Homo sapiens: one gene and its partner. The protein of the gene in region 1 purifies or fractionates together with the protein of each later gene. This does not show direct contact. Each region holds a gene or a part of one and is shown on either strand. Other genes may lie near its edges.

Region 1 (6,957 bases):
TACAAAAATTAGCCAGGCATGGTAGCACGCACCTGTAATCCCAGCTACTCGGGAGGCTGAGGCAGGAAAATCGCTTGAACCCGGGAGGCGGAGGTTACAGTGAGCTGAGATCACACCATTGCACTCCAGCCTGGGCAACAAGAGTGAAACTCCGCCTCAGAAAAAAAAAAAAAAAAGAGACTCCATCTTGGTCATTGGGCTGTAGAGCTGGAAGGTGAGAGCCAGTGAGTGACCAAGGACCCCAGGGCAGAGGTGAGGACCATGGTGAGAGCTGGGGAGCCATAAGTGGTGGATCTACTAGTGGACAGGGAAACCACCACGGCCCATGTGGGGAAGGGCCCTGCTTGGGTCCCTGGGTGAGCAGGGCTAGGCCAGTGTGACCTTGAGGCTGCCCAAGGGTCAGGGGAATTCCGTCAGGAACACAGCTGGAGGCCTGAGGTCAGAGAATATTTATAGGGCCAGGACTGGGCAACTCAGGGGCGGGGGGGCCTTTAGGAAAACAAACTCTGGTTATGTCCTCAGGTGCCCCCCCTTTGCAGAGTGACCGTTAATCTGAGACCTCAGGCTATGCACCACCCTCCAAGGCCACTGGGTGGGCTGGGGCCCAACTGAGCTCAGCAGACCCTTAGGGCTCAGAGAAACATGGCATGGAACTGTAGGCAGGTGGACACCATCCCACTGGGCCAGGACAGAACTTTCCATCGGCAGATCCCAAGCAGGTCCCTGAGGCCCCAAGCCTGGCCTCTGGGGCTCCACTTCTCCCTCAGCTGTGTGACTCCTGACCTCTCTGAACTTCAGTGTATAAAATGGAAATAATAGCCCCAAACTTGGCAGGGCTGTGGTGAGGGGTAAATGGGAGAAAGGGCTTGGCGATGGTGGCCTCTATTAATAACAATTAATCTTTTATTATGATAATAACAGCAAGCTGACTGTGCTGAGCTGCCCCTTCTACCTGCCCAGACCTTCCCAGAAGGAAGGCCAAGAAGCTCCCCTAAGGGACAGGCCGACGGGCCCCTTCTAGTGTTACCAGGGCAAACTGACACCCCCACAGGGAAAGGCACATCCCTGCCCACCCCAGCCCCAATGCCTGCCCAGCCACCATCAATAATCCAGAGGCCAGGCCTGGGACACCTGAGCCTCTATTATCAATGATTCATGAACACCCTCCCTCCGACTCAAGTGAGCCTCACATTACAGGTCCCTTTCCTGCCTACTCTGCGGTCAGCAGATCCACACCTATGGTCAGGACAGGGCTGGCACCTGGTCCTCCAGGGTGATCTCTGCTGCCAACTTCCCAGGCCAGAAATGGGAAGAAGTGGGCTGCTCACAGGTGGAAGGAGGGCTAGGGGCAGCCCAGTCCCCAGTGACCCCCTCGGTGGGCCTGTCTCACTATGGGAAAGGAGGGAGTGAGGCAGCAGGGAAGGGGTATGGGGTGGCTAACTTCCTGGGATCTCCTCCACCAGGGCTGGAGGCTGGGAGGCAGCAGCTATGACCAGACAAAGGGGAAGGAAGAAGCTGGCCAGGAGGCAGTTCCCTCCTGTGGGGCTGAGTCATGAAGCCTGCCCGCCAGCTCCTCCTGGAGAAAGGCTGGCCCATCTGGGAGCCCTGGCCCTGACCCAGGCCCCTGCCTTCGCGGGGCCAGGGAAACCTTCTCAGGGCAGCCCAGCCACCAAGTGGCCACAACCGCACCAGGATTCAGGTGGTCAGGCAGGTCGATGGTGGCAGCCCCAGGCAGGGGATCCTAGTGTGGTGGGAGGGGTGGCTGATGGCCAAACCCGCCAGGCTGTCTGGGCAAACAGCCCGGGCCTTCCCCACAGGCCAGGCAGCTCTCTCAGGCCAGTGACAGAGGAGGACACTGAGCCCCAGGTAGAGTCAGGGCACCTGGCTCCCAGCCATTGCTTCTCTCACAGCCTGTCCAAGAAGGAAACTGGGACCCCTAGGGGAGGGGAGGGTGTGATGCGGGAATGGTGAAGCTTCCTAGGGCTGGGGGCTGGGGGTGGGAGCTGGCCTGGATTCTTTAGGGCCAGGACTCTCCCCACAAAACCCCATATCTGGACCTCTTCTCTGTCTGCAGCCTGGAGCTGGGATCTTCCAACCAGACTGAGGCAGACTCAGAAAGTCACAGTGGAAAATGGGAGGGAGGTCAGAGGTCAAGGTCAGATAGGCAGCTTTCTCCATCCCACGTAGAAGTCTCTGTTCCGGGTTTTCCCTAGCCTGGGGAGAGTGAGTGTCCTGGGAGGAGCAAAGGTCAGGGCCTTCTCCTAACACACATAAACAAGCCCATTCAAGTCAGACACATGCGGTATATGCATCCTTGGCAAAAATGCACACTGAGACGCGCTCCAACTGTGCACACACACAGACACCCACATACATGTGCACACTGCCATGAAACACTGATGTCTAAAGAGGGTCCTATGCGACCTACAGTGTCCATTCAAACAGTCACTAGTGCCAGTGCATGAATGACCCTAGATGTACACAAGCGAGTCACATCCAGAGGTGCACAGGCAGGACTGTACACGGAAGACGTGTGCACATGCGTGTACACCCACTCCCGGAAAGGAACAAAAATATACAGATGGGCACACACAGCCACATTCATCTCCAGGTAGGCACACAGATACTTCCACCCCAGTTGTGTACGTACACATACACCCACTCCCAGCTATGCACACCACGTCCGTACTCCCCCAGATGTGCCCACCCCAGGCGACCCGCGGCTGCAAAAGAGAACAGGAAGCTTTCTCCCGGCTGGTGTGGGGTGGAGGGAGGGGCCGAGAGCCGGGGGGGGGCGCTTCCGAGAGCCCAGACCGAGGCCCCCTGCCCGCCCGCCATCCGCCCTCACCGTGGATGCCCGTTTGGTGCGCCATGGCTCGGCGCTTCGCTCCGTCCGCGCCGTCGGAGCCCTCCGCTTGACCCTGGCCCGGCAACGCTCGCTGGACCAAGAGAGGTGGAGGATGTGGCGGAGGCTGTCGACCCTCGCGCAGCTTCCCGGGCGGTGCCGCAGGACCCGCCCCCAGCGGCGCCCCGCCCCCGACAGGCGCGGCAGGGAGGCGGGGACTCGGGGCCGCGCGTGCGCGCAGCCTGCGCCTCGGTCCGGGTGGGTCTAAGGATGATGATTGATCCGCCGTGCGCACGCCAGCGCGTTCCTCTGTGGCAGGAGAGGGGGGCCTGCGTGTGACCGAGCGTGCGTGGGAGGACGCGCGTGTGTGTCTGTGCGCCCTGATCACGGTGGTCTGTGGGTGGGGCGGATCGTGCGCGCGCGCCCGATCTGTGCGCCCCAAGCCAGGTGGGTCTCCGAATAGGAGTGGGTCCCAGCGTACACGGGTTTGCACCCAGGAAGGGGTCTGCTTGTGGGTGGGCGCGCCAGCTCTTCCCCAGGGGCCGTTTCTTGAGCGCCTCCCGTGGGGTCCTGGGCACCTCGGGGTGATCATGGCCGCTAGGCTTTGCCCTCACGGGCCTAGGCCCGCCTTCACCCACTAGATGGAGTGTATGGTGGTGAGAGCCCGCCGAGACAATGTGAGGGGCTGCCAGGAGAAGGCGAAGATTGGAAACCTAGAGGGGAGAATGAAACAGCCCAGCAGAGTGGAGGGAAAAGTTTTCTTTCTTTTTCTTTTTCTTTTTTTTTTTTTTTGAGATGGAGTTTCCCTCTTGTTGCCCAGGCTGAAGTGCACTGGCGCGATCTCGGCTCACTGCAACCTCCGCCTCCCGGGTTCACTCCTGCCTCAGCCTCCCGAGTGGTTAGGATTACAGGCATGCACCACCATGCCTGGCTAATTTTGTATTTTTAGTAGAGACGGGGTTTCTCTATGTTGGTCAGTCTGATCTCGAACTCCCGACCTCAGGTGATCTGCCCGCCTCGGACTCCCAAAGCGTTGGAATTACAGGCGTGAGCCACTTACTAGTCCCAGCCAGAAAGGTTTTCTGAGAAGAGGGCACTGCATGTGCAAAGGCCCAGAGGTTGAAAGAGGGCCAGAGCCTGGTGAGGAACTTCCCATGTCCTAATGACCTTCTGTGTCTATATCCAGCAGCCTTGCCTTACTGGTACCAGTACCTGCCTGCTGCTACCAACTAGTCAACATGTGGCATCTTCCAGGCCACTGTGATGAGTCAGGGATGAGCATCTGACTCTGGTTGGTCCAATCAGCTTGTCCAGGGACTTTGGCTGGGAAGATTGGAAAGGAGGCCAGCTTTTTGGGCTGGGGTTGCTGAGAGATGTGATGATGAAATGTGTGGCCTACCTGGCATCTGGCCCCAGCTTCAGCTCCATTTACTGTCTTGCTCCCCACCCTCACTAGCCTGCATTGAGGCCTCCTCTGTGCCCCCCAACCCCTGAGTTTCTCATCCCCAGAGAGCCCAGCTACACAGAATTGAAGGGTTTTCTCATTCATCTTCCTGCGCTCACCCTGAAGACTGGGCCTATGTCATCTGCTAACCACTGTCCCCCCAGCACTCACAGTGGAAAATGGAGTGTTATGCAGCCCTGCAGCTTGCCTTCTAGAACAGTTCACAGGCAAGGCCTCCCACACTGAACCCTGCTACAGCCAGATGGTGCCAGCAACACAGAGCTACTTGTTACATCAGCTCAGACTAAGCCACACCCACAGGAGCATCTGGTGATTCCACAGAACCACAAGAGACTTGACCTCCTGGAAATGAATTAACCAAGATTAATGAAAAAGATTAAGGTCATGTGCCCTGTAAAAATGTCCCTCACTGGATGAACTGTGACAAAGTAGGGTACTGCGTGGTCTCCCCAGCTGACCCTCTCCATGGGTCATTCTTTGCTTTTATCACTACCTGGCACAAATCTTTACGTATTTGTTTATCGTCTTCCCTCCACCAGTAGTTAGGTGTTTGCCCTTGCTGTATCCCCTGTGCCTAGAACAGTGCCCAACATTGGCAGGTGGCCAATAATTGCAAAATAAGCAAATGTATGAATGAACCATTAGATGCTTTGTGTTGTATACTTACTACCTGCTGGGCACATTTATTTAATCCTCATGACAGCCCCTGAAGTAGGTGTTACTTTTTCCATCTTACAGATAAAGACTCTGAGGTTTGGAGAGGTGAAGTGATTTGATCAATGTCACATGGTAGTGAGTGAGGCCAAGAATCATAGTTTCATTTTATTCGAGAAGTTGGGGGCCAGGTACAGTGGCTCATGCCTGTAATCCTAACACTTTGGGAGGCCAGGGTGGGAAGATCTCTTGAGCCTAGGAGTTTGAGACCAGCCTGGACAACAACATGGTGAGACTCCATCTCTACAAAAAAAAAAAAAAAATTATTTTAAAATTAGCCAGGCATGGTGATGTACACCTGTAGTTCCAGCTACTTGGCTGAGACAGGAGGACTGCTTGAGGCCAGGAATTCAAGACCAGCCTGGTAAAGATGGCAAGACCCCATCTCTACATATATATATCTATAGATAGATAGATAGATTAATAGATAGATATGTATTAGCCAGGCACAGTCACACATGTTTGTAGTCCCAGCTACTTGGGAGGCTAAGGCAGGAGGATCACCTGAGCCCAGGAGTTAAGGGCTGCAGTGAGCCGTGATCACACCACTGCATTCCAGTTTGGGTGACAGAGTGAGGCTCTCTTAAAAAATTTAAAAATACTGAAGAAACAAAGGGAGGAGTTTGTAGAATCTGGAGTGGAGGAAACTTCTGTGTCACCAAACACAGAAACCATCAAAGAAAATCTTTCACTTCCAAAATTAGTCTATAGAAAAAAAAAAAGAAAATCTTAACCCAAATAAGAGACTGAGGCAAGAGCTTCAATCAATCGAGGTTTACTGAGCCAGAGTTGGAGCGTGCCCAGGAAAGCAACACAAGTCAAAGAAACGTCTGTGGCCTGTGCTCTCCCAAGAAGTTTTCAGGAGGCTCAATATTTGTACATTTCTTTAAAGGGGAGAAGACAGTGAGGCAAATGGTTATGTTTTTGTGAGACTCTTAATTAGTGTCCCGTAAATCTAAGCTATATGGAAGATAGGGTGAACACTGGAAGAACAGGGAGTAACAGAAGAGCCAATTATGCAGAGGTCTCAGGTTAGGTGGAGGAATGATTGATCTCATCTTATCCTTGTTCTGCACCTGGGCAGATAAACTTGTAATTGACATTGTCAGTGTGAAATTTAACAGACTTTGGTTTTAGGAGTTAGGTTTAGGTTGCAGACCTAAAGTTGCAGTTGACATGTCCTTGTTTTATAGGAGGATATACATCCTGAAAGTTTTAGGGACTGGCAAAGAATTTACTGCTGAGCAATTTGTGATTGCAGTCACCTGGAGATTCATGAGGCTTTTTGCCTTTTTGTGGGGATCTGGTTAATGCATAATATTTTGACACAAGGTTGCAAGGTAACAGGTATCCATTTGGGAAAAGAATGACAGTTTTGGAGAACATTAGTTCTGCAGCATAGAATGAAGTGTTGCCGGAATAAAATTAAAAAAAAAAAAAAAAGGCTGGGTGTGGTGGCTCATGCCTGTAATCCTAGCACGCCTGTAATCCCAGCACGCCTGTAATCCTAGCACGCCTGTAATCCCAGCACGCCTGTAATCCCAGCACTTTGGGAGGCCGAGGCGGGTGGATCACCTGAGGTCTGGAGTTCGAGACCAGCCTGATCAATATGGCGAAACCCCATCTCTACTAAAAATACAAAAATTAGCTGGGCATGGTGGCGGGTGCCTGTAATCCCAGCTACTGGGGAGGCTGAGGCAGGAGAATTGCTTGAACTCGGGAGGCGGAGGTTGCAGTGAGCCGGGATTGTGCCAGTGCACTCTAGCCTGGGTGACAGAGCAAGACTCCATCTCAAAAAAAAAAAAAAAAAAAAAAAAAAAAAAAGGAATGCCAGTGTTGTGTGGCTCAGTCTCCAAGCTTAACTCTCCCTTTAGCATAACAAATTTGGGGGTCCTGAAATTTTTATTTTCCTTTATGAAAAGATCAATAATCC
Region 2 (7,032 bases), on another chromosome or scaffold:
AAAAAAGCTATTCTGATACCATTGTTACTATTAGTAGGATGTGACTTAGAAAACAACACAAATATTACAAATTTTGACAAATAATTACTAAAAGTAAATAAAAAGCAACTTTATTGGAAATCTCTCTCTTTTGAACACTTTTACTTTCCATAACTTTATGGATATGTGGATGTGTATACTTATTAAAATGAGTCCAGGTGGCTGGGCGCTGTGGCTCACGCCAGTAATCCCCGCACTTTGGGAGGCCAAGGCAGGCGGATCACCTGAGGTCAGGAGTTTGAGACCAGCCTGGCCAACATGGTAAAACCCCATCTCTACTAAAAGTACAAAAAATTAGCCGGGCATGGTGGCTCGCGCCTGTAGTCCCAGCTAGCCAGGAGGCTGATGCATGAGAATCACTTAAACCCAGGAGGCAGAGGTTGCAGTGAGCCAAGATCGTGCCACTGCACTCCAGCCTGGGTGACAGAGCAAGACTCCATCTCAATAAAAAATAATAATAATAAAATAAAAATAAATAAAATGGGTCAATGTTGAGCATCAATTTAATTCTTATTTTTTGTTTTTATCAATGTAATGCTGGGAAACATAATGAGGAGATGGAAATGGGAGGAATTTTGTTATAGAAATGTCACTTAATTTTTTGAACTCCAACATCACATGGTAGTGAAATATCAAAACTTATTTTAATTGTCAATGTAAGGAAAAATTGAGAAGACAAATTTCATGAGTACCCTAATACTTATTCATCTGGGTCATCTCAGTCATTCATTGTGTTTGACTAAGCTATTTTACAACCCTGTAGAGATATAAGTTAAGTTGCAGAAAACTGATAGTAAAGCAAGTCATACAGACATGCAAATAAACTTTATGCTGTAGAAGTCCAATCACCTTCCCTCTCCCATTGTGGAAGAAGCCAGTTTTACATGTATTAAGCAAATTCATTCCAGCATTCTTATAAATGATCTCCTTTGAACTGACTGCAAAACCTTTCTGGCTCTCTCATTTTTTAAATAAGTTTGAAAATGTCTATTTTTTATTTGTATGAGAGTCAAAATTTCATTCTTTTTTAGAGTTTATCCTTTAATATCGGTTTACTATTTGATTAGACTGGCCTTCACTTTTTGTTTTTTAAGATAGATTTAGAAAACACATGATTTGCAAAAGGGTCTCTGCTCAGGCATTACAGTCATTTGCTTTCTCACCCCTGAAACGAAATTTATACTCAGAAATTTCCCCCTTTTTTGTCCTCCCCATCCCCTAGAGTTTTACATCCTTGGGCAAAGCAATTTACTAAAATGGGTTAGACATAAACCATTTAGTAAAATGGATTAGGAAAATGGGGTAGACATACGCTTTTCACAAGGAAAGCAAGAGGAAGGTGATTATGGAAAAGCAGATGGGAAAGAGAACTTGCGTCTCCATTACAGGTCCATTCTCATCAAGATTAGTCTTAGGAAAAAAGCACATATGGAAGAGGAGGATTTGGACCTTTATATTCTCAAAGCACCTGTGCACATGTACCTTTGGCAAACCTTTGCATATAGTAAATGCACACAGTTTAAAGATTGCTGAACCAAAATAAGAAGCATAAAAATGAGTTCCATCCCCAATTATATATTATATAGAGACTCACACTATTAACAAGTCTCTTTTTAAAATTTTCAATTACTGAAGACTTTCAATTGATAATTGTCCACCTTCCATTCAGAAAGAGGCATTGAGGGGAGTGAATTCCTAAGGAAGAGAGAGGCTGTTCTGAAGCAAGATGGAAGGAGGGGGAGTGAAGGGTTGTCTACAGTGAGAACTTTGAACACAGAGAGGAGTACTAAGAAACAGAGAAGAAATTCAAATGGAGGAGAAATAAAAATGTAAACTTAAAAAAAATTGCCTAAATAATTGTGGATCTGCATTGTACCCTGAAAATCTCTAGCCACAGCTTCTAGCATGACTGCCGAGAGATAGACTATCTGCATTTAGCCTACCTCATGTCAAGTAACCAATCAGTTGAAACTGTCCATCAATCAACCTAACTCATTAGGCCAGACATTTGGTTTTCCTGCCACTGGAGAGGGGTGAGTAGCAATACCAGGACAGTATACATTCGATGGAAAGATCACACTTATATCATATTGATCTATCACTTGCACAGTTTGGGTAATACACAGGTTACTATGTTAGTTTCTTTCAGGCTGCTGTAACAAAACACCACAGACTGGATAGCTTATAAACAATAGAAATTTATTTCTCACAGTTCTGGAGGTTGGGAAGTCCAAGATCAATGCAGATCAAGGCCCACTTTCTGGCTCATAGATGGCACTTTCTTGCTGTGTCCTTACTTGGCGAAAGGAGCAAAGGGTCTCCCTTGGTTCTCTTTCATAAGGGCACTAATCCATTCATGAGTGCTCTACCCCATGACCTATTCACCTCCCAAGGCCTTCCACTCCTAATACCATCACAATGGCAGTGAGGATTTCAACATAAGAATTTTGGGAGGACATAAACATTCAGACCACAGCAGCTTCGAAGCTAAGATTACAAATGGATGCCTCCAACTCCAGTATATCACACTATAACCAGACTGAACTATACATGCAACACTTGGAAGCCTATTTTACCTGGTTCTGAAAAATCTGATCATCTCATTTTCTTAGTGTGGTCCAATTTAACTGTTCTTGTTGCCTTAGGATAAAATAATTCATTTTCATAAGAATCCAGTGATTCTTTTTTTTTTTTTTTTGAGACGGAGTCTCACTCTGTTGCCCAGGCTGGAATGCAATGGCGCGATCTCGGCTCACTGCAAGCTCTGCCTCCTGGGTTCACGCCATTCTCCTGCCTCAGCCTCCCGAGTAGCTGGGACTACAGGCACCTGCCACCACGCCTGGCTAATTTTTTTTGTATTTTTAGTACAGACGGGGTTTCACCATGTTAGCTAGGATGGTCTTGATCTCCTGACCTTGTGATCTGCCCGCCTCAGCCTCCCAAAGTGCTGGGATTAGAGGCATGAGCCACTGTGCCCGGCCAAGAATCCAGTGATTCTTCTCTGACTAAAACTAAATAGAAACAAAGTAGGAAATGATGACAATCATCCGAATAGATCCTTTGTGACTTATGTTTACAGCTTAAGTGTCATCTTCTATTCATTCTATCTTCCTTCACTGATCTTCATTTTTGCATCCCCAGATGCTAGGGATATAGCAGTCACTCAACATAGGGGGAGTAAGTCAACCAATGGATCCCAGAATTTCTCTGGATCTCCAAATGGAATGATGCAAAGTAACAGAGGTTATTTTCTCATTAAACTGTGCATAATAATAGGACAACAAAGCTGTCTATGTACTACAGGTCTGTTTTGTGTGTGTATGTGTGTGTGTGTTTTGAGATGGAGTCTCATTCTGTTGCCCACACTGGAATGCAGTGGCATGATCTTGGCTCACTGCAACCTCCGCCTCCCGGGTTCAAGCGATTCTCCTGCCTCAGCCTCCCAAGTAGCTGGGACTACAGGCACGTGCCACCATGCCCAGCTAATTTTTTTTTTTTGTATTTTTAATAGAGATGGGGTTTCACCGTGTTAGCCAGCATGGTCTCAATCTCCTGACCTTGTGATCACCCGCCTTGGCCTCCCAAAGTGCTGGGATTAGAGGCGTGAGCCACCATGCCCGGCCACTACAGGTCTGTCTTTGGTGTCTCCAGCATCTAACTTCCCCAGGAACCATCTTCCTCTTCAGAACTGCCATTTAGGTTACCTCCCTTCTATGTTCAGCCTCTTGGAACCCTCCTTCAGCCTCTCAGAATACCCCTTCCCATCAAAACAAAAGAGATTTTAGATCAGACTTCTATATTGCAGAATGGCCTTTACATTCTGAAAAGCTGAGGGCTAACAGGAACATCAAAGGTTATTTACTTCCTCCATGTATCAGGTAAATGTGAAATTTTAAGAATTAGGGGCTAGTGCACCTTCTGCAGGTGGCTAAGTGTTCAATGAGAAGCCAGGATTATTAGATGCCTAATTAACTAGACAGGGCAGATGAAGACCCCATTCATAATAGTCATAATTTCTTCTTCTGGTTTCAGACAATGTCCTATGTCCCTTTCTGTATAGGGCTGTATACTGAAAGGGAAACAATCCCTTCACATAATTTCTCAGTGAAAGAAGCCATTATTTTCCTAAAGTGGGAAAAGTGTCTACTAAAGACAGAAACAAAACAAGATGGAATTCCCCTGGATATAAAAGCTCATGTAGGCCGGGCGTGGTGGCTCATCCCTATAATCCCAGCACTTTGGGAGACCTAGGCAGGTGCATTACCTGAGGTCAGGAGTTCAAGACCAGCCTGGCCAACATGACAAAACCCTGTCTCTACTAAAAGTATAAAAATTAGCTGGGTGGGGTGGCAAGCGCCTGTAATCCCAGCACTGGGAAGGCTGAGGCACGAGAATCACTTGAACCTGGGAGGCGGAGGTTGCAGCGAGCCGAGATGGTGCCACTGCACTCCAGCCTGGGTGACAAAGCGAGACTGTCTCAAAAACAAACAAACAAAGCTCATGTAGCAAAAGGACAAATATTGTATAAGGTACTTAGAATAGGCACATTCAGGGACAGAAAGTAGAATGGTGGTTGCCATGGATTGTGGAAGAGGAGAATCCAGAGTTATATTTAGTGGGTACAAAGTTTCAGTTTCAGATGATGAAAAAGTTCTGGAGATGGACAATAATAATGGTTGCACAACAGTGAGAATGAGCTTAATGCCACTGAATAGTATGCTTAAAAATGTTTAAAATCGGACCGGGCACGGTGGCTCACGCATGTAATTCCAGCACTTTGGGAGGCTGAGGTGGGCAGATCATGAGGTCAGGAGATTGAGACCATCCTGGCTAACACGGTGAAATCCCGTCTCTACTAAAAATACAAAAAATTAGCCGGGCGTGGTGGTGGGCACCTGTAGTCCCAGCTACTTGGGAGGCTGAGGCAGGAGAATGGCCTGAACCCAGGAGGCAGAGCTTGCAGTGAGAGGAGATCGTGCCACTGCACTCCAGCCTGGGCGACAGAGCAAGACTCTGTCTCAAAAAAAAAAAAAAGTTTAAAATCGTAAATTTTATATATATCTTAAAATAGTAAAAGTAATTTTAAAATTCCTCATAATGGTTTGTTCTGACTTTAAGGTGCTTTCCTCCTTCTAAGTTCAAGGAGAAATATCCTGAATGAATGGCAAAACTCACTGCCTAACTCAACGACAGATCTAGATCTGCCCAAGGCTCATTGTTATCAGACTTACCTAACTAAATCACATCGGAAATACTAGACCACTCCGCAGGATATACAATACGAGGCAACTTTTAATGAGGTTTAGTAACTATTCATGTACTTTGATTAAAGTAATGTTCCTTTGATGTAATAATAAAGTTGTCCTCCCTCTCATCCTAAACCCAGGTGATATAAGGAGATGAAGATGTCCGTGAGTGACCGGGTTAAAAGGCTCTGCTGTGAAATTGAGTTGTGAAATTTTAGATTTTCCACACTTCTTAAAACGTTGGGAAATACTTTTACAACTAGAATGTAAATAGGATGAGAAGTCAGAATGTCAGATCTAATCATTTTATCTTGGTTTGGGGAAATGAGTAAGTGGTTACATGCCATCAATGTGTAAGTCAAAGGAGAATCAGGTTTTCTTTTTTTTTTTTTCCCATTAAAATACATGGCACATTCACAGTGAAGAACTCTTGCACATGTGTGCCAAGACACATGGAAAAAAAGTCTTCAAAGCAGCATTCTTTGTAATAGCAAAACATGGGAACCAACCCAAATGCCTGTCAACAAGAATGGTGAAATAAATCATGGAATATTTGCCAAGAAATATTACATACCTACATGCAACAACGTGGGTAATTCTTTTTTTTTTTTTTTTTTTTTTTGATATGGAGTCTCGCTCTGTCGCCCAGGCTGGAGTGCAGTGGCGCGATCTCGGCTCACTGCAAGCCCCGCCTCCCGGGTTCACGCCATTCTCCTGCCTCGGCCTCCCGAGTAGCTGGCACTATAGGTGCCCGCCACCACGCCCGGCTAATTTTTTGTATTTTTTAGTAGAGATGGGGTTTCACCACGTTAGCCAGGATGGTCTCGATCTCCTGACCTCGTGATGCGCCCGCCTCGGCCTCCCAAAATGTTGGGATTACAGGCGTGAGCCACCACGCCCAGCCCAATGTGGGTAATTCTTAATGACCTAATGTTGAATTTTAAGAATGCAAGATTAGGCTGGGTGCGGTGGCTCAGGCCTGTAATCCCAGTACTTTGGGAGGCCGAGAACGGCAGATTACCTGAGGTCAGGAGTTTGAGACCAGCCTGGGCAACATGGTGAAACCCCTTCTCTACTAAAAATGCAAAAATTAGCCAGGCATGGTGGCCCGCGTCTGTAATCCCAGCTACTCAGGAGGCTGAGGCGGGAGCATCTCTTGAACCTGAGAGGCGGAGGTTGTAGTGAGCTGAGACTGTGCCACTCCATTCCAGCCTGGGCGACAGAGAGAGACTCCATCTCAAAAGAGAATGCGAGATTATAAATACCTTTTTTCATAAACCAAAAAAACAAACCTAAACACTATTGTTTTGGAATACATACACATGTGATAAAACTGTTTTACAATAAACCAGGGAATGATTAACACAAAATTCAGGGTTGGGAGGGACATGAGAGCAGGCACAGAGGAAAAACACAAAGATGCAACTGGATACTAACAATCTAGTACTTTTTCCCCTAGTTTTCTGTTTATTTTCTTTAACAATTTTATTGAGATGTAATTCACATACCACACAATTCACCCATTAAAGGTGTACAACTCAATGGTTTTTAGTATATTCACAGATACGTGCGACTATCACTATAGTCGATTAGAGGATATTTTCATGTTTCACCTCAAAAAGAAACCCTGTGACCTTTATCTATCACTTCCCTACTCAACCCACCTCCAGCCCCTTCAGCCCTAAGCAACAAAAAATCTACTTTCTAGCTGTATACATTTCCTTGGTCTGGACATTTTCAAATGAAT

Evidence for each region. Proteins that work in one complex are often made in the same cells at the same time.
Region 2: the proteins of TWF2 (region 1) and CAP2 purify together in Homo sapiens (co-immunoprecipitation; 3 studies listed by BioGRID and IntAct, with this or other methods). This does not show direct contact.

The regions. Positions count from the first base shown.
Region 1 is NC_000003.12:52,236,144-52,243,100, forward strand, and holds the start of TWF2 (twinfilin-2), read right to left. Parts: upstream 3,016-6,957; 5' UTR 2,874-3,015; coding exon 2,849-2,873; intron 1-2,848. UniProt on the Homo sapiens protein: Actin-binding protein involved in motile and morphological processes. Inhibits actin polymerization, likely by sequestering G-actin. By capping the barbed ends of filaments, it also regulates motility.
Region 2 is NC_000006.12:17,396,570-17,403,601, reverse strand, and holds part of CAP2 (adenylyl cyclase-associated protein 2), read right to left. Parts: intron 1-7,032. UniProt on the Homo sapiens protein: Involved in the regulation of actin polymerization.